3 separate regions of the Homo sapiens genome follow, and all the other regions are linked to region 1. The links come from fine-mapping of genetic effects on gene expression. Tissue or cell type: testis. Region 1 holds a variant in brackets; each other region holds the start of a gene. All regions are shown on one strand. Distances are from middle to middle.

Region 1 (8,000 bases):
ATTCGGAAGTGCCAGAGTCCAGAAGGTGTTCAAAGCCCTGGTATTGGATGAAGTCTTGCCAGCCAAGTAAGCAAACACAGAACAGACCCTGCCTGGATCTCTTTCTGGCTCCAGACCCTATAGGTGACAGCCACGCGATAGGAACAGCATGGCAAATATTTGATGATCCTTAGTTCATCACACACTCTAAAGGGTAAAAGAGAAGCTGAAGATCTTCCTGGAGAAATGAAGGGAGTGGTAGACTGATTGCATCGATGGCCTCGGTTTGTAGACTCCATTTCCCTTGTAACATTGTGGTCCCTTCCCACCCTGAGTCTGGGCTTGGCCACCTGACTTGCTTTGGCCAAGAGGGTATTAGTGGACTTGCTGAAAGCAGAGGCTTGAGAAACATTTGCATGTTTTGATTTCCTCTCTTGCTCCTCTACCTTTGTTATTAAAAAAAATGCCTGGGCTAGCTCTCTCCTGGAATCCTGTCGCCACCATGAAACAAATCTAGGCTGGCCTGCTGGAGTACAAAGATCACAGAGTATAGCTGAATCATCTCAGCCAGACTCCCCTAGACCAACTGTTCCCCAGTTGAGCCACCAGCTGCCTGCAGACATGTGAGTGAGCTCAGTCCAAACCAGCAGAACTTTCCAGCTGACCTATAGACTTGTGGCTGTTGTTTTAAGCTGATAAATGTTGGGTTGGTTTGTTATGCAGCAGTAACTAGCTGATACAGGGAACGAGAGTTTCTTTAGACAGTGGGTGGGAGCCTGTGTATGGGCATCTATCCCCACGGGGGAGGAAAGGAATGCTTCTCCACAACCTTAAGCCAAGAGAACTATTCAGAGACCTTGGCTTGAGTCTCTTAGAATTTGAGGAATGTAGGGGCTGGTGCCTGACTCATGTCCAAAGGCCCTGGGAAAGGCCAGCACTTCCAATAGGGATATGTATGCTTCCCATGGGCCAGACATGACCCAACAGGGTCACCCAGAGGGGTGAGGTGACCCCAGCAGAGGAGTCAACCAGAGCCCTGGTCTAGGGGATGTTGTAAGTAGCCAGATGGAATAAATTGCCTGAGTCCAGGGGACAGCAGGTGAGAGATGCGAGAGAGAAGAGGGGCTCCAGAGAACCCATAGAAGTAGTCCTGGAGAGACACAACGAGGGAGCACCTGCTCCAGCTCACCCCTCTCCCAGTCTGGGCAGCCCTTCCTAGCCCACTCCCTCACCTCTCACCAGGGAGCAGGCAGAGCAGGAAAGAGAAACAAACTCACCACGACCCTCTTCCCACTGCAGCTTTCCCAGTCTGAGTCAGATCCAAAAGGCTAAGACAGGCTTAGTTTAAACTGCAGGAGTTTGGAGTTTTAATGTTAGGCCTAGACTTCTTAGATCTGAAATTGACCAGGAAGTGAGAGGTACTAGAAGGTGTTCCCTGAGCGGGCTTAGTGGGGTAGCCTGTGGAGCCCAGCACACCATTCCTGGGTGGGGCTTCCCAGGCTCCATCCCAATCCCTGCTCTCTCACCACCTGTCCTGCAAGAGCCCCTCTGCCACTAGGGTAGCACCTAACACCTCTCCCTGGCGATTTCCAAACCTCCGTCTCCAGCTTAGACTCCCCCATGAGATTCTCATCCACTGGCCAACCATCAGTTGACACCTACCCCAGGATGCCTGCACCTGCTCCAGACCATCCATCGCTTGGTGACCACACCACCATCCACTTGGATGCGTGGGCCAGAAATCTTCATGCTGGGTGATCAGCACACCTCACCTCCTACTCACCCACCTCCTGCTAAGGATCCCTCCTGAGCAGCCCTGCCATCTGCCCCCTTCCCCATCCCCAGGGCCACCACTTGGCCCTGTCCCTGGCTCTGCCTTCCCCTCCTACCTCCCCTGCAACTCTGATCCCTGGTCAGATTGAACCTTCTGAATTGGATCATGCCGCTTCTCTGTATAAAACTCATTTTCTGTGGCCTTTAGGATGCAACTTAGCTTTTGGCCTGGTTCACGGTGCACTTTGAGGCCGGTCCCCACCTGAATTCTCCAGCAGGGGTTTCTGCCTGCCTCTCACCCCTTCTGCTGTGTCACACTGATGGTGCTATGCCTTCTCCCCGCAGACGGTTCCCTGCAGCTCAGGACCTTCGCACAGCTATCGCCCCCAGGCCTGCCCTCCCTGCCTCCCCATCTTCCCCTCCCTTAGAAGGGCAGTGGCTTCCTGCTCTCACCGGCAGCCCCAGCTTCCCCATTGCAGCCCCAGGCCCCCATGTTGTCCCTGTCTGCTCGTGGGTCTGACCACTCCTCCAGGGCAAGGGCTGGCTCTGAGTCCCCTGGTCCAGGGCCTGGCACAGAACTGGCACTGGTGAGGGAGCGAATGCACGAAGGACAGGAGCAGGGGTGACCTGCAGGGGACCCGGGGAAAGGGAGTGGAAGGTGGCTGTGCCGCTGGGTCTGCAGTGCTTCCCTGGAGAGGGAGCCTAGGTCTGAGAAGCAAGGTTAGCTGCACTGCTGTGGCTAGGATGTGGCACTGCCATTGCTAGGGGGTGGCACCACAGGGCAAAGGGCATTGTCCTTGGAGTCAGACAGGACTAGGTTGAATCCTGTCTCCACTACCTACCTACCGGTGACTCTGGAAAAGTCACGGCACCTTTTTGAGCCCCATTTCCTCATCTGTAAAAAGAGGACCAATAAACAAAGGGAGGGGCCAATAACAGCCAGCCTCCCACCCTACAGGCTGGGCATCAGCAAATGCTCACAGATGTCTGCTCTGCGCCCATCCACAGGCAGAGAGGGGCAGACCCCGTCCAGGCTGCAAGGTGCTTCTAGCCTGGTGGGGCAGACGATGCAGCATGAGCCCAGCGGGCAGCCCAGAGCTCAACCCACCAGGGTGATCATGGACTCCGTGATCACCCCCATCTCCACACCCCGTCCTGGCCTCTGGGGGACCTGGCAGGGCAGGCTCGGGCCTGGCGTTCCCAAGCGGGGTGTGGGTGGCAATAGTTACCGGATGAGGTCCAACAGGGCATCGGCTGAGCTCATGATGGGCTTCCCACTCTGCTCCGTGGTCTCCTTCTGGGCCGCGCTGCCTGGGTGGATGATGGAGACCATGAAGATGCCCACGATGACAGCCATGAAGGTGGTCCACAGGTAGTACGCCACGGTGAGGACGCCCAGGCGGCTAGAGGTCTTGGCATCCAGGGAGGCAAGTCCGGACATCAAGCTGGGAGGGCGAGGGGGTCAGGGGCTGTGGTGGGGAGGCCAGGGCCTGGCTGGCACTCAGCGCTCACTCAGCCCCTCCTGGCCATGTCCAGCTGCCTCACAGTGCTCCAGGGAACCCCATTCTTCCAACAATCCAGTCCTGTGCTCCTTCCAGCCTCTCTTTCTGCTCTGCCCTCTCCCCCACGCCCCGGGGCGCAGGCCACACACATCTGTGCCTTGAGACCTCTGCACTGCTAGGCAGAGAGCCCAGGCCAGGGTGGCTGTGGGATGGTGGGGACACTGTTGGGGGAGTGAGAGATTAATTAAGGAAATGCGTGTGCTTTACTTTGTTGCCTCAAGTTTCCCATGCTTGGTGTCCTCTCAGAAGCTTCCTTCACTCTCCTGACCCCTGCCCAGCCAGGCAGGACCAAGCTTGGTCTACCTCTGAGATCTACCTGCCTCTCCCCCAGAGTGAGGAGCCCATTCTAGGACCCCCACAGCCCCTGGCTGCTCCATCAGGACGCTGCCTGTCTGTTTGTGAGAGGAGGGATGAGTCTGACTTCCCTGTGGGTCCCGAGAGGACGGCACCGCAGGCGGTTCCTGCGGGCTCCTGGACGAGCTAATGAGGAGTGAGTGAGAGCGCTGGGCTGGGGGCTGGTGACCCAGGTCCTAGTCCCAGCTCTGCCAACTGGCTGTGTGGCCTCAGGCAAGCAAGTCACTTCCCCATCTTTGGGCCTCAGGATCTCCATCTGTAAAATGGGGACATCTTGGGTTTGTGCCTGGGCCCAGGCTCCTTGTCACAGGGGGCTGTGTTGAGAGGGCTGTGGGTCTCTCTCCTCTCGGCTCCTCCCCACCCCTAGCCACCCTGGCCTGGGCTTTCTGCCTACCAGTGCAGGTCAGCCCCAGAGTACTGGCGTCCTGGAGCCCTGGAGCCCTGGAGCCCTAGAGCAACGCTTCTTGCAGCCATTGTGGGGGGTGTGGGACGGTGGGGGGTGTGGGGTGAAGTGAGATTAATTAAGGAAATGCTTGTGCTTTGCTTTGTTGAC[A/G]AAAGGATTTTTCCCCAAAGCCCTTTCATTCTTTCAGATAAAGAAGTATTTGTCTGGTTTTAATCATGTAAACAAGAGCAGATAATCCCCAGCCACGCTCCTCTTATCATTAGATTCCATGCAGCAGCATCCAGCCCCAGGCTGAGCGTGAACACCGGCCCCCTCCCCCAGCGGGAGCCACCGCCTGTGAGGGCCCTGCCCTGCCTGCTCGCTGGCGCAATGGCTTACTCTTCTGGTAAGACACACTTTGAGCATCCCCTCTTGCAGGAAGCCGTCTCTGACCACCAGGCTGAGTGAAGCCTCCTTCTCTGGCTCCACAGTCCCTGTGCCTCCCACTGTCCCTGCCCCCACCTCACTGGACTGCGGACTCTTTACTGGAAGCACCTCCAGGGTTGGGCCAGGTTCTGATTGAATGCTGGGTCCGCAGTTTGGTAGCAGACTGCTGAGTGAAGGAGTGAGTGAATGAATGAATGAGTGTTTACAATCTCTGCTCATCCTCATCTGCCAGGATGCCATATGTTAGTGATGGGCTTAGGGTGGGTCTTAGACATAAATCCTGAAGGGCTCATAATGGGATTGTGCAGCCAGAGGAAATGGGGGGCTGCCCTGCAATCATCATCAAAGAGAGATTATCCCACGCAGGGCCGGTGCGTCAACCCAGGGCCAAACAGTCCTCCCACCATGACAGAACCCCCCGCAGTGGGGTCCAGCCGCCTCAGGCCACAGGGAAGCCATGTACCCGAGAGCAGGCCCTGCCTGAGGTCACACAGGACAGCAGTGCCCGGCTGGGCCAGAACTCAGGGCCAGACCCAGGCCTGTCCTCCTTCATTCACGTGCATTCAAACCTTTCGCACATGCCCACTCCGTGCCATGCCCTGTGCCCACAGGAAGAAATCAGAACCTGTCCCTGACCTCAAGGAGTTCCTAATCTGCCAGGGAATGGGGAGGGAGAAGGAAAGGACACTGGGCCACAAGTGCACTCAAATGGCCCCTGGACTATGTGGGAGCATCAGAACCGCAAGGGAAGCGGGGACAAGGAAATGCTGTCTTTGTTCAGAGAAGGGGGAATCACTTCGAGCTAGGAAAGTCAGGAAGGGCTCCCTGGAGGAGGTGGCATTTGACCTGGCTCTTGGAAATGGGAGAGGATTTGGAGATGGGGCAGACATGCGCAGCAGTGAGACAGTGGAAGGCAGAAGGGAGGCTGGAAAGTGTGAGACACCGTGCTGTTCGATGTGGCCCGAGCTCAGGTAATATCTGAGGGTTAGTGACAGATTGGTGATAGAAGGGATAGAGAAGATAGGCTGAGCTCAGGAGTAGGGTGGCCTTGTGGCACTTCAGCACAACTCAGGCAGCAGAATTTGCTGGATGTCTAGAAGGGAGAACGAAAAATTCCTTCCATTTGAGAAGATCAAAGTACACATGGTGTACTGGGAGGGTCACTGAAGTAGTACTTGTAAGATCAAAAACCTGACCTAAGAACTCACCAATGCAGATTAGATAGGAAGGGACGGTATAGCAGCCATCCGGAGTGATCGTGTCCCTGGAAGGGTGTTCCTAAATCAATGCTAAGTGGAAAAGCAAGTTACCAGATTGTTTGCATCTCTGCAGTGAGCCCTGGAACCTCCTGGGATGGTGGACTCCCTCCAGATTTGCAGTCTAGGCACATAGATGTGTCTGAGGGATTGTGTGGAGTGGGGTGCAGGTGAGGACTGGATTTCAGGAAAGGATAAAGGCCCCTCAGAAGGCCCCCCACCGGGGACGAAGAGGCCTAACACGGGGGTGGCGCCAACTCAGGGACAGATTGAGATGTGGGAGGGAGTGTAGGTTTTAGACAGAGCAAGAGGGATCCCTGACCCCACCCTGGGGCCCCCATCAGCTCTGGACAGGAGAGCACCCATGGACGAAATGGAGAGAATCCTGGGACCCAAGTCGTTCTGTGCTGGAGCCTCCCTCCCTTCCCACAAATGGCGGAAGGGAGAGGTGAGCAGCCGCGGGAACTGCTGGTGACAGCTGGCAGCACAGGCCAGCCTCCCCCGGAGTGCCAGGGCCACCGCAGGTGAGGGCGGAGGCCAAGAAGAATGGGAGCTGGGCATGCAGAGGTCGTGGCTTCCACTCAGAGCTCACAGGCACAGAAAGGAGGTGTAAGGCCCTGCCCTTTGGCTTTTTGAGGGATTCCTCCCTGCTGAGGCTCCTCAAGGTCCCAGGCTTCAAGGTCAAGCTGTTAAAGGTGACTTTTCTGAGAACTTGCAGCTGGTGCCCAGTGGTGGTGGGAGACCAGGTCGCGTGGACGGGCACGGAAACAAGCAAACTCTATAGGAAATGTAATTATTATCTTTGGGTGTTATAAGTAATTTTTGTTTTGTTTCGAATAGTCCTTCACATTCTCTATTCTTTCTAGATTGAGCCCGTCTTCTTGTGTGATGGAGATGACACCTCCTGGAGGACCCAGCAGCCTCAGAAGCCATCATCTCTCTGGGACTTTACTGTTCCCCAGACACCTGAACACCCAGCCCAGTGGATCCTTAACCTTCTGAGTGAAGCACTGTGGAGTTCCACTGCGAGCCACATTTGTAATTTAGAATTTTCTAGTGGTCACATTAAAAAGTAAAAAGAAACAGGTGAAATTAGTTTTTTGGTGAAATTAAGTTTAATACTTTATTTAACCTAGTTTATCCCAAATATTATCATTTCAATATGTCATCAATATAAAAATTTTTAGGCCAGGCACGGTGGCTCATGCCTATAATCCCAGCACTTTGGGAGGCTGAGACAGGTGGATCACCTGAGGTCAGGAGTTCGAGACCAGCCTGACCAACACGGTGAAGCCCCATCTCTACTAAAAATACAAAATTAGCCAGGTGTGGTGGCGCATGCCTGTAATCCTAGCTTCTTGGGAGGCTGAGGCAGGAGAATCGCTTGAACCTGGGAGGCAGAGGTTGCAGTGAGCTGAGGCCACGCCATTGCACTCCATCCTGAGCAACAAGAGTGAAACTCCGTTTCAAAAAAAAATTTATATTGCTTCAGGTTTTAAATTTTAAATTAAATTAAATAAAAGTTCAGTTCCTCAGTTGCACTGCCTGCTTTTGGGTCTCAGAGGCCTCCTCTGACTCGTGGCTGTTGTATTGGACAGCCCAATACAATAGTTCTGAGTTACAGATGGGGAAAATGGAGCACAGGGAGATGGAGGCAACTGGCCAGGCCCTCCAGTTGGTGAACCATAATGTCAAGATTGGAACAGGGATTTCTGATTCAGAACCTTGTGGGGTTCCCACTCCCACAGTGCCTGTCTGTGGCACAAACCTGGTTTAACTCTGGTGGTGGGGGAAAAGATCTGGTTTGGGCTATGATTTTATTTTTTATTAATTCTTTGAAACAGGGTTTCACTCTGTTGCCCAGGCTGGGGCTCAGTGGCACGATCATGGCTCACTGCAGCCTTGACCTCCTAGGCTCAAATGATTCTCTCACATCAGCCTCCCAAGTAGCTGGGACTACAGGCACTCGACACCATGCCTGGCTAATTTTTAAAAATTTTTAGTAGAGATGGGGGTATCTTGATGATGCCCAATCTGGTCTGGAACTCCTGAGCCCAAATGATCCTCCTGTCTTCACCTCCCAAAGTGCTGGGATTACAGGTGTGAGCCACCCAGCCCAGCTGACTATGATTTTAATGTGATCCAGCCCATGTAAAGCCATTTTAGTTCAATCTCGGAGTTCACAGCCTGCCCTTGGTAATGAGCCTCAGATTTGTGGTGGTGAGCTTCCCATTGTTGGAGGCATCC
Region 2 (8,000 bases), 27 kb after region 1:
CTTAAGAGGAGATTTACAAAGCTTCCTTCTCCTCCCCGCCTTGTCTCTGCTTCACTAGAGACCCACTTTTCTCTTTGTTTCTCTCATTAGAGACCCCCTTTTCTCTTCGTTTACTCTGTTTCACATTAGGAGCCTCCTCACATTTCTGGTGGCGTGGCTTTCTGCTCGTATGTAAGTTTGAAGCGCTAAACTTCTGCATGTATGAGTAGGGTTTGTCAACTGACGGCCCTCAGGGCAGGGTGACAGGTGCTGATCTGGCTTTTTCACTGGGGCTGGGTGGGATGGTAGAGGAGTCTCCTTTATAGCAGAATTTAGAGATCTTTTCTCTGAGGCCTCAGTGAGAGAAGTCTCTTCCTGCCTTTGGCTGAGGAATGACATGGTGCCTAAGCTCAGCTGACAGCGATCTGAAACCGTGCTGGGGACCCCACTCAGACAAGGATGTCTGTTAATTAGTTTGAAGTAGGTGCCTCAGCATGGCCCTCTCCCCAACACACACAGGGGTGGCCCAATACCCTCAAGTCCAGCTTCTCTGGTTCCTTGGGGCAGGCAGTGGGTGGAGATGGGTGGATGAGTCCCCCAACTGAATTGGAAGGTCCCTAGGGGTCTAACTGCTCTGGTTACAAAACTCCAAACCATGCCCAGGCTTTCAACCCCAGCCTCACCCTGCCTAGTGCAGCATCTTGCTCTGTTACGTTCTGGAGTCTGCAAGACAAACTGACTTGGTATCAACTTCCACAGACTAAGATTCCAGCTTTCTGTGAATGAGGTCATCAGCTCCACCCACCTCCATATTATCTAATTTGTTGTAGCCTCTCTATTTCTTTTTCTCAACTGTCTCCTTTTATATTCTCTTTATTCTTGGTGGTTTTACCTTTTAAAAATCCCATTACTAAAATGTTAGTGGAATTCTAGGAAGGAGGGAAAAAAATGGATACACCTGTGATTCACCATGGTTTAACTGGAAGTCTCAAAATGCTCAGTATTTTTAAATGAGACACTCATACACCAAGATAAAATCCTGTGATTTTATCAAGGATAAAAGTTCTTTTTCACAAATAGAACATTCTACCATTTTCCATATTGTTTATGATTTTTGCCTGTTGCATAAGCTTACAAAACAAGAAGTGTTTAGTTTCTGAGTCACAGGCAAAGAGATCAAACAGAGAAATCCCAGATTTCAAAGTAAGATGCTGAGAAAGCCAGTTTCTGCCAAATAATTGTTCTAAGCCTCTACATCCTTCCTTCAATTTATCTGGCAGGTTAATCCAGACTGGAATACATTTGCATTTCCAAACAGATGGGAAAGGCAGCTTTGGCAAAGTAGGCCCCAGATGAGTTTGGCTTTTAATAATAGGCATTCCAATTTGTTTTCACAAAATAATCTTCCTGCAGGAGATATATTTTTGTTGCTGAGGAAAATTAAAGAGAACAGATTGCAGATTTTTTTGTTCCATTGCCAGTTTAATGCAGCAGATAGTTGAGCGTTCTCTCTGTGCCTGACACAGGGCTAGGCTCACGTTTTGGTTAAAAAAAAAAACAAACCCATATGTTGTTCAGCAATATGCAGCTTGGTGGGAGAAAGAGACACCCATATAACCAGCTCTGAAGCCAGGCAGCCAGCAGCGGGGTTACAGTTACTTTCATCAGCTATGGATGATGAGATGGTTCCTGATGTAGATAGGACTTTAACAGGTACATAAGGGAGGGAGGGGGAAGTAACACGTAGTAAGCACCTACTGTATGCTGGGCATTGATGAATCCTTGGTTTATTCCTCATAATAATTCTAGTAGACATATACTGCCCCACATCCCATTTTACAGACAAGGAAACTGAGGCCCAGGGAGGAGAGAGGATATTGCCTAGCCATTTGCTAGCAGAGTCAAAGTTCAGGGTTTCTCTGCCTCCAGAGTCCATGCTTCTTCCTAAATAACTGCTCGAGGCTTAACAGGGTCACTATAGTCGTGGCTCAGTTCTCCAGGAGTGGGTGTTTTCCTTTTAATGGAAGACAAAGTCTAATGCCTGACCCCAGTTGTAGAGATGGCATTAGACATTAGTGAGCTGCGGGAAGAGGACTTTCTGGGAATAGGGACTCTTCCAGGAGCCCATTGACAAAGCCTCTCTCCTTGACCACACTTTAGACAGGCTCCTCTGAGCCCTCTTTTCCACTGGGCTTTGTCCTTGGGCCTTGTCTTCAGCCTGCATAGTCCAGCTGTAGCAAAAGTCCTGCCAAGTCAGTTTAGTGAGGATCCCTCACCCTCCAGCATCCTGATACTGGATCAAATTCCTCATCCCAGATCAATGTCTGATCACCCTGGCCTGCCTTCAACAAGAATCCCCCTACCCTGATGTCTCCTGTAGTCATTTTCTGTCCCCGACCCCCTCCCTCTGCTCGCTGGCTATAAATCTCCAGCCATCTTTGTTGTATTTGTGGTTGGGTCCCATCTCTCTCCCCAGGAGGTCTTGATAACTACCCCCCTACCACAATAGTCCTGAATAGAGCCTTCCTTACCAGTTTAACTAGTGGCAGAATGATTTTGTCCTTAACACCATGGGAATGTCCCTCCCTCTCCTGTAGGAGATGGGGGCTGACAGGGAAAGGGGCTCTTTCCCAGGAAACGCAGCTTCTTCATGGCAGTTACACAGGCTGGAAACCCGGGGCCTGGCTCCCCTTCCTGTCCCCCAGCCCACATCCAATCGGCCCCCACATCCTGAAGCTCCCCCTTTTGAAAACAGTTCTCACGTCTGTCCCTTTTGTCTGCACTGCCGCATCTCCCCCAGGCTGCCCCTTCTCGGCCCCCTGCCTGCCCCAGAATCACCCCCTCTCCACTCAGCACCTGAGGGGTCTCCCAAGCTCCAAACTGGCCTGTCGCTCTTCTGCCCAAAAGCATCTCATGGTTGCCGCAAGCCCACGTGTGGCGATGGGACCTATGGGCCTGCTGGCCTCTGCGCTCCGGCCGCTGCACCTGGCATCTGCTGTCACCTCTGCCTAGAGCACGCTTCCTGGATCTCTTGTCATTTGAGCAGCCTTTAGGAGGTGTTCTCTGGTGCCTGTTTGAACTCACACAAGACCCCCCTCTTTCCCCGCCACAGCTCTTGGCCCTGTGTTTGTCATCATGAGGCACCCTCGCCTCTCCTCACCTGATGGTGCTGGGTTTGTAATCACTCCCCAGCCACATCACTGGTTCTTCCCTCTAGTCCTGCAAAGTGTTTATCACACCCATGTTACAGATGAGAAAACCAGGACCCAGAGAGGCAGAGGGATTCACACACTGTCATGGCACCAGGGAGCTGTGATGCTAGAACGGGACCCCAGATCCCTCAGGCCCACACGCCCCTCCTGGACAGGGGTCCCGAGATGCTCTGGGTGGCTGACCTGTGGTGAGAGGCGCCGGGTCCTCAAGAAGAAGCCGAGGAGGCAGCCCACGATGACAGACAGCACAGACAGGATGAGGAGTCCATTCCGCCTGCACACGTCCCTCCCCCGTGCCAAGATGGCATGCGGCACCATGGTGAGCCTGGCCTGCTGGCAAGGGGCACAGCACCATTCCACGCATGAGAGCCCGGCCGGGGGCACAGGGTCTGGGCTGAGGGCTCTAGCCCCTCAGCAGGCAGGTGGTCGGAGTTGCTAAACACCAGTCGCCAGCCCCACGGCCATGCCCGTGTGGCCGCCTTAGAGGGAAGCCACAATCCTATTACCAGCTGCATCATTAGGAGCTGGGAGCAGATTAGGGCCTGGGAAATTAGAGCAGACCACGTGGTCTAGGAGTTCAGGCCTCAAAGCCAAGCGTTCCTCTTAAACAGTTGAGTGGACCAGGTACTGGAAGGAACAAGAGGAACATTTGCTTGGTTGGTTTGATCTTTACCCCTGCTTCCTTCCAGAAAGAATCAAAAACAAGACAGTAAGATATCAGTTTCCCTCAACATTAATTAAGCATTTACTATGCACCAGGTGCCATTCTAGAAGAGTGTTACATGTACTGGCATATTTAATCCTAACACCAATCCCAAGAAATAAGTACTATTAATATCACCATTTTACAGATAAAGAAACTGAGGTGGGTGGGTGCATGTGCTGCGGGCCAGGCCTGTGCTGGCTGCCTTAGCTATGCCAATCATAGGGAATTGTCCCAAAGATCCCAGGGTTCCCACCTTCATTTTTCAGAAAGGGAGGCTGAGACCCCAGAAGCCAGTCCCTTGGCCATGGTCACAGAGGTCAGAAGTCAGGGCTAGGCCAGTCTGTTTCCACCACATGAACAGGCAGATAGGTTCAAGGGTGCTTGGCAGTATTGTGGGGAATGTAGATTCGAGTCCAGGGGACCTGAGTTCAAAGGTGGGCTGTGCCACTCACCGGGAAATGGGACGTAGATGCTTCAGGGCTGTTTCAAGCCTGGTGCTGGGCACCCTGCAGGCTCTCTGGGCCTATTATTTTTTAAAGATGACAGAGCCCAAGAGACCCACATTCGGGTCCCAGCTCTGCCACTTACTAGCTGTGTGACCTCAGACAAGCATTTCATCTCACTGTGCCTCAGTTTCTCCATCTGTAAAATAGAGATGATAACAGCATCTACTTTGTTAGGGCTGGTACAAAATTCCACCCAGAGGGTATTTGGAAACGCAGTGTGAACCCTGGTGTGCTGAACAGGGGAACGGACTCTTAGGGTCATTATCACACTTAGTGCTTTGGAGAATAGGTGTCTTTTTGCTATTTCTTGTGGCCTGGCCTGCCCTGCCCTGTAAAGCCTGGGGGAATTAACCCTCGTCTATTTCACCAGAGATCTGTAATCTCATTAGGAGCAGTCAGGCAGCAGGCAGCAGGGAATGGGAAGTGCAGTCTGCAGTGAGGGTGGGAGGTAAAGGGTGGGGTGCACACAGGGGCTTCCTCCTCCTGACATAGGAGACAGGGGCAGAGGATGAAGAGGACGGGCCAAGTGGGGCATAGGGGAGAGGTGGGGAGAGGGGACTGGGGCACAGGCTCTGAAGCCATGGACAGAGCTCCTGACTGAGAAGATTCTGATCCCAATTTAATCAGCTCTGTGACCTTGCCGTCTCTGGGTATCAGTCTTGTCCTTTTTAGAATGAGAGAAATGGGCCCAGGTACCTTTGTCAAAGGAACTTCATTTCAACAAACCAATCTTCCAAAGCCCCTGCTCTTTGCAGTAGCTTGGGGTGGGGGGTGGGGGTGAATACAAGTCTGAGAGTTTTTTTTCCTCTGACTTTGACTCTTAAAACCAAAAGTTTCTTGCTACACCTTCAACTCCAACAAATGCCTCATTTTCCAAATAATCAGGTGGTTAGTTACTTCCCAGAAGAGAAAATATGCTAAGTAGGTATTTGGATTTGGGTTTTGATCAACTCCTGGGCTCAAACAATCCTCCCATCTTGGCCTCCTAACGTGTTGGGACTGCAGGCATGAGCCACCACACCCAGCCCAGACCTGGCCTTTAGCTGTGCCATGATATAGGTGAGTCTTGCTTTCTACCACAGCTCCATGACTCCCATTCCCAGGACGTGCCCTATAGCCACCACTGACTCCTCTCTCCCACAGGCTGAGCCTACCACTACCTGCCTACCAGACTACAGCCATTCTTTCCACTGTTCCTACGGTCTTCAACAGGAGAATTTCAACTCACTCTAGCAAATGTTCTTATAGCACCATTTAGTGTGCCACACCCCCTGGGTACTAGAAACACAACAGTGAATCAGACAGTACCTGCCCTGCCTTCAGGAAGCTTATAAGAAAGTGGAGAGACCCCAAGAACGGACTAATTCACACTAAAGTGTAAGTGACTGATAATGAGTTTACTAAGAATATTTGCAAATCAAATCAAGTCTCCTGGGTCAGAACCCTATAATAGTTCACCATTGACAAAGAATCAACTGCCTTTTACAATGTCACTAGATGTGCAAGACAATTTTTCCATAATTACATCAAAAGGAAGTTTGGGAAATGCTGGACGAAACAAAAAGTTAAGCACGTTATTTCCTCTGAGACAGCTCAAAGTCAGACTGCTAGAGTTAAAACCTCAGCTCTACCTTCAACCAGCTGTGTGACCTTGGGAACATTTCTTAACTTCCCTGTAAAATGGGGATAATGCAACAGTACCTAGATCATAGGGTTTTGATGTGGGTCATACAGTGCTGCATGCGCCATGGTTAGAGCGTGGCCCAGTGCCTTGCAGATAGCCCCAGGTAGTTACTATGAAAGTCTTTACAGTAGCGGCTGTGTCGGAGGAAGTCACCAAGTGGAGAATAGAGAATCCCACCCCTCCTCTGGAGCAGAGAACTCCCTGGGCCTGGTGTTTGGAGAACACGCCTGGGAAACCCCGGTCTGCAGCATCGAGTCTATGCTCCCCTGCAAGGCACTTTCACCCTTTTCCTCACCCTTTCAGCATTACCTCCTACTCCTTCCGTCACCCCTCCAGCTCCTATGACACCAAACCACTGCAGGGTCCTGGAACGCTGCATCCTGTCTCAGGCTTCTGCACCTTTGCCTGTGCTATTTCCTTGGCCTAGAATGTCCTTCCTTGTCACGAAAGTTACAGGTTAAATCCCCCTCTTCTTCGAAGCCTTCCCTGATTACCCTAGATACAATACCTTCTCTTTTTCTCACTCTAACTCAGGCCCTTCACAGTCACCAGCTGGGGATTCACCTAGCTCCCTTTTAAGTGGCTCTGACAAGGAAATAAGAATCTATGAAAATAAAATCAAATCTCTGTTTGTTACCATGTCATTTGAAATCACCTCAATGGAGAATCCTCAAAGTTGGAGGGTATATTGGCAGGGGCAGCGGGGTGCTAGGGATAGCCTGAGGAGCAAGGTGTTGTATAATGGGCAGCAGGCGGCCTCAGAGATGCTTCTGGGGAGGCTTGAGCTGGACAGACTGAGATGCTATGGCAAAGAAGAGACATGGTGTTGGCGAAAATGAACGCCAAGTCACAGGTGCAGCTGCCTCACCCTGCAGAAGCAGGTGTGCAGTTGAGCTGTTCTTCACCGGGCCCTCTGCTTGGGTTATGCTGTGGGGAGAGCAGCAGGGGTTGACTTATTTGCTAATGATTAATGATTAATGATTCGCCAGGGCTACAGGCAGGGCCAACCCAGCCTGGGAAGGCGGGGATAGGAAGGCTTCCCAGAGGAGACGTGGTTTAGGCAGAGGCCTCAATAAGCCAGGGAAGGGGGTGCTGGTCAAGGGAGAGGGGAGACGACAGTCTGATTTAGGCCGGAGGCGTGACAGCAGGGCCTCCCAGGGCTAGCAGTGCATCGGTGGGCTGCAGTGGCCATCGGGGCTGGGGCCTTACACCTTCCACCATGTGTCAAAATGAGTTTAGGTCTGGCCGGGTGAGCTCCCATCTGGGTCTGTCGTGACGACAGCTCGGGGTATGTTGGCTGCTTTCCAGAGACATACCAGAGGCGCCTTAATCTCCCTGACACGTCTTCCCAGCTCGCTGGAAGCTGGGCCCTTCCGGGAAGGTTTTCTGTGGGCAACAAATGCAGCTGATCCAGCTGGGTGTGGATTCCTGCGAGCTTTAGTCACCGAGGGGCTGTCCTGACCTCGCTGAGGGCTAGTCCTTTCCCACATTTGCCTCAGAGGATGGGAGAAAGTGACTCTGTGGTGGCAACTCAGACACACGCCTTCCTTTTTCCCTTCCAGTCCCCCGTCTAAATCTGTCACTTAATGGAAATGAGGCCTGGGCGCCCATAAGCCCCTGAGCCGCTCTGTGTTGAGCACCGACTGTGTACCAGGCTCTGGCTGGGTACTCTGACACCTTCACCTAGAAGGGCCCTGACCAGGGGGAGCCAGGGACCCCTCCACATTCACTGGGTCAGTCAAGCCTGGGGGCTCTAAGTCTGTGCAGTACAATTACATAGCATCCATTACACTACTTAAATTGAAATTAATCAAAATTAAATAGGACCAGGCCCAGAGGTTCATGCCTGTAATCCCAGCACTTTGGGAGGCTGAGGTGGGAAGATGGCTTGAGCCCGGGAGTTTCAGACCAGC
Region 3 (8,000 bases), 53 kb before region 1:
GTACCATTCCTGGCAGCCTACGGGTGTTTCACTTTCTAGAGGCTGCCTTATTCCCTAGCTTATGACCCTCTTCATCTTTAAAGCTAGTCAAGTCCTTCTGATGTTTCAAATCTCTCTGACCTCCTCTTCTGCTTCATCTTCTCTCTCTCCAGCTAGAGAAAGTTCTCTGTTTTTTAGGGCTCATGTGATTAGGCCCACCAGGGTAATCCAGAATATGCTCCCTATTTTGAAGTCCGTAACCTTAGTTACATCTGCAAAGTCACTTTCATCATGTAACATATCCAAAGGTTTTAGGGATTAAGGTGTGGATATCTTTGGGGCGGGGTTGGGGGGTATTCTGCCTATCACAGTGGTATTTTAGGGTGAGAGAGGAGAGCTTGCAGAACATGAGATTCTTGCCCTGGAGGACTCACAATCCAGTGGGAGAAAGAGGAAAAACAGCAAGAAAGTTCCAATAATAAAGAGTCTGTATGAGATGTTATAGCAGCCCAGGAGACTCCTTGTGTACTTGACTTGGACTGAAGATTTTTCATTATTCTCTTCTTGTTCCCTGGAGAGTCTTGCCTTCATCAAGGTCCTTCAGATGGAATTCATATACCCCAAACACCACCATGTGATTTGATTCCTTAAATGTCCAGAAAATCAAGCTGCTGCCATAGCTATTTGGGACTCTACTGCTTAATAAGATCTCAGCCCTCAGCTCAAAGTAGGAGGAATTATTTTCTTCTTTGATGATGAGGCATAACAAGAGCTCATTGTTCCTCATCTCCTGTTTCTCATCATCAAACCCCACTGAGAGCCTTCTTGTTCTTTACTCCTAGCTCTCTCTACCGTATCAATGTATGTCTTTCCTCCCTCCTCTTTGGAGTGTTCTTGTTTCTTATTGTTTTGAATTAGAAGGCACTTTCCCTGGGCAGTACAGAGGTTACTGTTTAATTCTTGCCACTTGTCATTTCTATTTTAATAATGTTTCCTGGCTATTTGGTCAGGTCTGGGTGATAGTTTTGCAGTAATAGCTACCATTTACTGAGCACTTACCATGTGACAGGTACTATGTAAAGTTCTGTACTTGCATTCTCCAATTTAGACATACTGTGAAGTGTAGGTACTATTTTTATATTCATTTGAACCTAGCTAGGATTTGAACCCAGCTCCAAGCTTAAAGCTTGTACTTGACACTATGTACTTCAGTAATATCAAACAGGAGCTGAAATTGAGGGGCAGCATGAAGGAATTGAAGCAGCACAAGTAGATTCAGGAAACCTCAATTTCAAACTCTGCCTTTACAATCCTTCTGAAAGAGGATTTGCTTCTAGAGCACCAAGGTTGCCTCCATTTTTCCACCAGAGACACTCAAAGTGATTCCTCCTGCAGCTTGTATCTATAGTAGCAGCCAACCACAAAGCACACATGGGCATTTGCTCAGCATTCCATAGAAAAGCCTATTTCTCTGGGAGGTGGTGGGTACTGGGTGTGTGGTGTGCCGTGTAGCGGGCCCCTGAAACACCTTGGCCTTAGCAGTTATAAGTATAGAGAATATCTTCCCCACAGGGCTAGGATGATTAAGATATTTTAAGGATTTAGGATGGTGCCTGTCATTTATTAGGCACTCAATATGTGCTGGCTCTCATTGTCCTAAAAGATTTTTAGTCCATGAGTATTCAAGCTAGTAGAATCCTGTCCTTTTAGCTCTACTTGAATCTAGGCTCAATGTTCAGGAGAAGACACGAGATGCATCTCTGTTGGTCCAGGTCCAATGCTGTGAATCACACCAACTCTTGTGAGTTTGAGCTCCAAAAGGACTGGAATTTGAGGCCAAAGAAGGCAAAATATTTTCCCTCCCCATTCTTGCTAAGTTCTTGGGTTGTTGGTGTAATGGAAACAGACAGTCCTGGGTTCAAATCTAGACTCTACATTTGCCTGCTCAAGTTACCTGCCTGTTTCCATCATGGGAAGAACTTGGGCTGTGGAGAAGGGTAAACCTGGGGTCAAAACCCCAGCTCTGCCAGTGAATGGGCATTTTACTCAGTCAAGTATCCTTTCTGAGGCCATCTCTTTTCTATAAAGTGGGGCAGCAGCAGTTCTTCCTTTGCGGAGTTGTGAAGCAGAGCATAATGCATATGGTATAACCTCACGGGGGCGGCAGCCAGTGAAAAGTCTGGAGCTGCTTTACAGGGGCCATTCATTCATTCATTCATTCAGGTTAAGGTTGAGCAAGGGGTCCCACGTGTGACTTATGCATCCTTCTCCCTCTTCAGTGGGAGGACAGCCAGGTGAGGCAGCTGTGGATGCCCTGCCCACAGGCCAGAGCAGGTAAGGGGAGGAGGCTTGCTACACAGTGGAGGTGCCAAGTACCACCTAAGCCCAGCCGCATTGCCTGTTCCACCGCCGAAGCCCCTGGCGCCAAACAGTGTTGCTTCAGCTGGTAGTAGTTAATACTCCTTTACTTGGAAACATTTTCAGTTCCTGGGAGCAATATGGTGGTGTGAGGTCTCACTGTTCACCCGCCCTGTTTCTCTGTGACTGGGATCTGCATGTCCCCGACTCCGGCCCAATTTACCATTCTTCAAGGCTCACCAGGCTGTGGGCCCAGGGCCAACAGGGATGGGAGTGGAGGGTGGGGTGGAGCGTGGGGAACTTTTCCGGGAAGAGGCCCAGCAGGGTCTTGGCTGGCGGCCCCATTAGCCACGGCCCAGGACCCCAGGGTGGGAGAGTGAACGGAAAGGTACTCGTGCCTGGAGCGGTTGCAACATCCTCTGTAATGAGGAAGATACAGCTCAGAGGCACTGGGTCGAAGGACCCCTCTCCCCAGCCCTCCTTTCAGGTGTCGGGGCCTAAAGGGGGTCCAGTTCCAGTGCGGAAGGCTGGGAACTAGGAAGCGTCGCGGACCAGACAGCCCGCCTTCCCGGTCTCCCGGGTGGGGGTTCGGGGGGCGTGGTGCGGCGGCCGGGGCTGAGAGGGGTCGGTGCGGCGGCTCTGCCTCCCCGGGAAGTGGGAACCGGCCAAGTCCCGAGCGGGGAGGGGCAGGCTTTCTCCTGCCCGCGCCTGGGGGGACCCTACGCCTGTGTCCGAAGGAGGCCGGCGTCCAGCAGATGCTCCCGGGGCGGGTGGGGAGTGGGGGAAGGGGGCGGGAGAGAGGCGGGGAGGAGAAAACCCACAACAAAACTTGCGTCGCGGAGAGCGCCCAGCTTGACTTGAATGGAAGGAGCCCGAGCCCGCGGAGCGCAGCTGAGACTGGGGGAGCGCGTTCGGCCTGTGGGGCGCCGCTCGGCGCCGGGGCGCAGCAGGTACAGGGCGCTGGCAGCCGGGGTGGGCCGAGGGGCCGGGGGCTGAGCCCGGGCAGCGCACTCAGACGTCCCCGCCTCTCCGGATGGCTCCAGCAGCTGCCTGGGGCGGGCCCGCCGCATCTCACCCCCTCTGTAGGACCCTGCACCCAGGGCACGGCCGGAGATCTCCTCCTCTGGAGTGCGACCCCTGCGCAGTCAGGACCCAGGCAGGGGCCTTCTCCTCTCTGAGCAGAGGCTGGTCCCCGTCCCCAGGCCCCTCCCGCTGCGCACATCTGGAAAGAATCTGAGGGCGGTTGGGGGCGGGGGCTGGAGTGGGAGGACGCCGGCGGGCGACAGGGAATGTGGGGGGCAGGTGGAACTGCGTAGGGGCGGGGACCCCTGTCATGAGAGCCTGGGCCCGAAGTATCCCCGCGTCTTTCCACGTCAACTCATCAGGCCCCCTAGCGACTCCAACCTCCACCTCTTTATAGATAGAGAAACTGAGGCCCAGAGAGGGGCAGAGGTCTGGCCCCAGGGCGCGTCGGACGCCGGGTGGGTCCCCTCCGGGGCTCGGCTTCCCCGGCCACTGTGCCGCCCCAGCTTAGTGCCAACCACTAGTTGAGCTAAAGGTCTCAGCTGGCGGTCTGGAGTCCGTCTATCTGTCTACGCGGCTGCTTCCCAGCCGGGACAGCTGGAGGGAGGAAGGGGTGGGGGTCCGCGAAGCGCGAGGAGCGAGATCCGCGCCTTCCTGCGAATGAGGCAGAAGCCCCAGGTTCCAGGTCCCCGAGCCACAGCCCGGCCTGGGGCGGGGGACGAGATCTTGGCGTTGGAATACCTGACGCTCCGTCAGGTGGAAGAGGAGGTGGTGGCGGGGCTGCGAGGCTCCTGGCAGCCTCGGGGGCTGGGGCTAGGAGAGGCAGCCGCAGCCTTTTGGAGAGGAGCAGGCGCGGCAGCAAGGGGCGAGCACCCCGGCCCCGGTGCGCGCGGCACTGACTGAGCTGGTCCGGGAGGCGCGGAGGATGCTCACCCAGCGCTTGGAGTGAATTACTGACCTGTCTGCCCTTCGATTACCGGCTGGCCAGGGAAGGGGAAGCTGTGGTCTGCCCTGCTCCACGAGGCGCCACTGGTGTGAACCGGGAGAGCCCCTGGGTGGTCCCGTCCCCTATCCCTCCTTTATATAGAAACCTTCCACACTGGGAAGGCAGCGGCGAGGCAGGAGGGCTCATGGTGAGCAAGGAGGCCGGCTGATCTGCAGGCGCACAGCATTCCGAGGTAGGTCACTCAGAAGAGCCCGTGGACTGCCCTGGGAAAGACCAGGGGGGACTGCTCTGGGGGTTCTGCTCCCTCATGTCCACTCTTAGGGCCCAAGACCCAGTCTACTCTAGCCTAGAGTGCAAGTTAAGAAATGTCAGAGTCACACGACTGTTTTCATGTCATCTGTGGGAGCACACTTTATCCCTTCTGTCTGAGTCTAGGATAGGGGATTACTAATGGTGGCACTTTTAGGCTTGGTGTAGTCATACATGCGAGTGCTGGCCGTGTCCTGCTTGGAACCCTTAATGAGTCCCTATCACCAACACTAGCATGGCGGTGGAGGCCCTTGGCCACCCAGGCCTCCCGCCCTGTTGACCCTTCCTTAAACACACGTCCCTCTCCTCTAGCCCCACCCCTACCTTTTGATCACACTCTACCTCTGCCTGGAGGGCTGTTTCTCCCACTCCGTCCACTTGGAGAACTCCCGCTCAGTCTTCAAGGCCAACTCAAGGCTCTGGGCAGGAGTCAGAAGACCCACATTTTACTCTTGGCCTTGGCTTTAACACACTAATTTGCAAACTGGGGGAGTCAGAGCAGATCATACTGCAGATCTTTAGATCTTTTCCAACTCTGCCTTTCACAAAGTCGTTCATTCAGCAAACATTTCCCCAGCACCCCCACTCCATGCTTGGGGAGACAGGGGAGGCCCAGCTGAGACTTGAAGGATAAAGCCAGCCAAGGTTGCTGTGGAAGCACCCAGAAACACCCTAACCCAGCCAAGGGGGCAGGAGAGGCTTCCCTGAGCAGGGGCATTTCAGCAGGAGCTTTCTAGGGATGGGCAGCAATGCCAGCCCTTTGTGCTTGAGCTCCAAATCTGCAGAATAGAAAGACGAACATGTAGTCCCAGGATTTCTATTAGAGTCAATAAGATGCAGCTGTTTGGGGCCCAGCACAGAGCAGGTGGTCAGTTGATTTGTACTGACTTTGAGTGGAGAAGGAAGGTAGTGCTGAGGGCTGAGGATCCGCCTCTTGATTTGGGGCTCCCTTTCCCTTCCTTCTTCTAGTCCTACCTTAACCTCACACTTTGGGCCTTGAGGTTTGGTTCCCTGGTAGTGGTCAGGGGAGACAGTGGGTCCCACTTACTTTCTCAGTAACAGTAACCCCTGGTATGTCACACCTATTTGATGCCAGCGGTGACAGGCTGAGACTGCTATTTCATTTAATTCTCACAAGTAGCTCCCAACTCCATTTCTTAGACTAGTTAACAGAGGCTCGGAGCAGTAAAGTGGCTCATCCAGGCTTACACAGCAGTCAGAATTGGAACCCATGCCCTTCTGTCTCTAAAGCTCTCCATATGAGAAACACTCACTGCTGGCTGAGCTTCCCCGCTGTCCAGGGGTTTGAGATGTTCCTCACCAGGTGGACTTGAAACTCCTGGAGACCAGGGAGCTCCCCTGTTCTTCCCCACACACCTCCCACATGGCTGGGTACACAGAAGGGGCCTTGGGGGGCTTATCTTGCTCCATTCTTAGAAGAGCAAGGCTGGGTACAGTGGCTCATGCCTGTAATCCCAGCACTTTGGGAGGCCGAGGCAGAAGGCCAGAAGTTCAAGAACAGCCTGGGCAACATAGTGAGACCCCATTTCTAAAAATAAAAAATTAGCCAGATGCCAGGTGTGGAGGCACATGCCTGTAGTTTCAGCTACTCGGGAGGCTGAGGTGGGAGGATCACCTGAGCCCAGGAGCCCAAGGCTGCAGTGAGCCATGATTGTGCTACTGCAGTCCAGCCTGGGTAACAGAGGGAGACCCTGTCTCAAAAAAAAAAAAGAAAGTTGGAAAATTTAGACTCAGATGGGTCAGTGGTATGGCCAAGGTCACACGGCAAACCAGGTAGTAGGGCTGGACCTTCCCAGTGCCTCACAGCCCTGAGAGTGGCTGGCGAAGCTGGAGGGACCACTCTCCAAGCCCTGTCTGTCCTTCTTACCTCTTCCTCCATTCCTGCAGTCCAGCACCTCTCTCTCTGCCAGGGGCAGGCCCCTTAGCCCTCACCTGTCCCAATTGCGCACCCTCGTGTCCACCCACAAACCTGCCTGTGTCACGCTCCTGCCTTTCAGTGGTCCTCGTCTTCCAGTGATAAGGACCACACTCCCTAACCTGCCCTTCATGTCTCTCCTTTGTGGCCTGGGCTTGTGGCGACTGTGCCTTTTTGTATCACTCCTAGTCCCTATCCCCCACCTGACAGTCTTGTGAGTGTGAACTGTCTTGCCTCTGGGCCTTTGCACACATTGACCCCCTTGCTTGTATGACCCTTTCCCTTTTGCCTGGTAGTCATCCCTTAGAATGGGATTATAATACTCAGCTTATACATAATGCTGCAGACCAGCACTGTCCAATAGAAATGTAACGTGAGCCACAAATGCAAGCCACATATGCAATGCAAAATTTTCTAGAGGTCTTTTTTTTTTTTTTTTTTTTGAGACGGTCTCACTCTGTTACCCAGGCTAGAGTGTAGGGGTGCGATCACGGCTCACAGCAGCCTCAACCTCCTGGGCTCAGGTGATCCTCCCACTTCAGCCTCCTGAGTAGCTGAGACTACAGGTGCATGCTATCTCACCTGGCTAATTTTTTGTATTTTTTAGAGAGACGAAGTTTCGCCATCTTGCCCAGGCTGGTCTCAAACTCCTGGGCTCAAGTGATCTACCTGTCTCAGCCTCCCACACTGGGATTTACAGGCATGAGCCACCTTGTCTAGTCAGAAGCCACATTTTAAAAAGTAAAATGAAACTGGTAACATTTATTTAACCTGTTCAAAATATTATCATGTAATCAATATAACAATAAATGGGATTTGATGTCATTAATATTAATATTAATAAGGTATCCTACATTATTTTTTTGTACGACATCTTTGAGATCTATGGACACTACATTTTACACTTACATCTCCATGTGGACCAGCCACATTTCAAGTGCCCAGTAGCCACATGTGGCCAGTGGCTAATGGAGTGAACGGTGCAGCTGTGGGCCTCTGAAGGGCAGAAGCCACGCTGAGTCTTCTGTCTGGGTCCCCTGCTTCCTGTCATGCTTGGCCTAGGGGAGAGCAGCGTAGCATTGTTGATATGACGTGGGCTGGGAGCTCAGCTTTGCCACTTAACAGCTGTTCACTGGCTGACCCCATTGGGCTCAGCTCCCTGAGTTGTAAAGTGGTGATGATAACATTTTCAGTACGGTGCAGAATGTTAATATAAATTCAATATTTTTATTGATGCAGTTTACAGATTTTTACAGATACCAAATGGAAGGCGAGGAGGCAGAACAGCCTGCCTGGTATGTGCACAGGATATGTGAGACCAGAGCTCCTTCCCCTGGATTCTTCTCCTTGGCCTTCTGCCCTGATTGAATTTGGGACCTGGGCCTGTGCCCACACTCTCGCTCTTAGAACCCCGGACTACAGTGGGGTCAGATGGGCAAGTGGCTAATG

Which allele goes with the higher level. Positions count from the first base shown, and alleles are read on the strand shown. Sizes are in standard deviations (SD) of each study's normalised expression. Not every link is listed here.
As copies of G replace A in region 1, the expression in testis of the gene that starts at base 3,192 in region 3 goes down (small effect, 0.16 SD a copy in GTEx).

What was found. PIP is the estimated chance that this variant, and not a neighbour inherited with it, causes the effect.
Region 2: it holds the start of SLC1A7, and the variant in region 1 is fine-mapped to the expression of SLC1A7 in testis (GTEx, PIP above 0.99).
Region 3: it holds the start of PODN, and the variant in region 1 is fine-mapped to the expression of PODN in testis (GTEx, PIP above 0.99).

The regions. Positions count from the first base shown.
Region 1 is chr1:53,111,777-53,119,776 of GRCh38, forward strand. SLC1A7 (solute carrier family 1 member 7) reads right to left here. Exons shown (of 11, transcript NM_006671.6): 3 at 2,982-3,197. LOC105379783 (a long non-coding RNA gene) reads left to right here and starts at 3,053. Exons shown (of 4, transcript XR_007066089.1): 1 at 3,053-3,137; 2 at 3,536-3,804; 3 at 4,335-4,456; 4 at 6,620-6,845. RefSeq lists enhancers at 1-67, 3,404-4,386. The variant A/G (reference allele first, on the strand shown) is at 4,222.
Region 2 is chr1:53,138,941-53,146,940 of GRCh38, forward strand. SLC1A7 (solute carrier family 1 member 7) reads right to left here and starts at 3,698. Exons shown (of 11, transcript NM_006671.6): 1 at 3,375-3,698. The coding sequence starts at 3,509.
Region 3 is chr1:53,059,022-53,067,021 of GRCh38, forward strand. It overlaps PODN (podocan), which reads left to right and starts at 3,192. Exons shown (of 11, transcript NM_153703.5): 1 at 3,192-3,287. RefSeq lists a silencer at 3,170-3,357.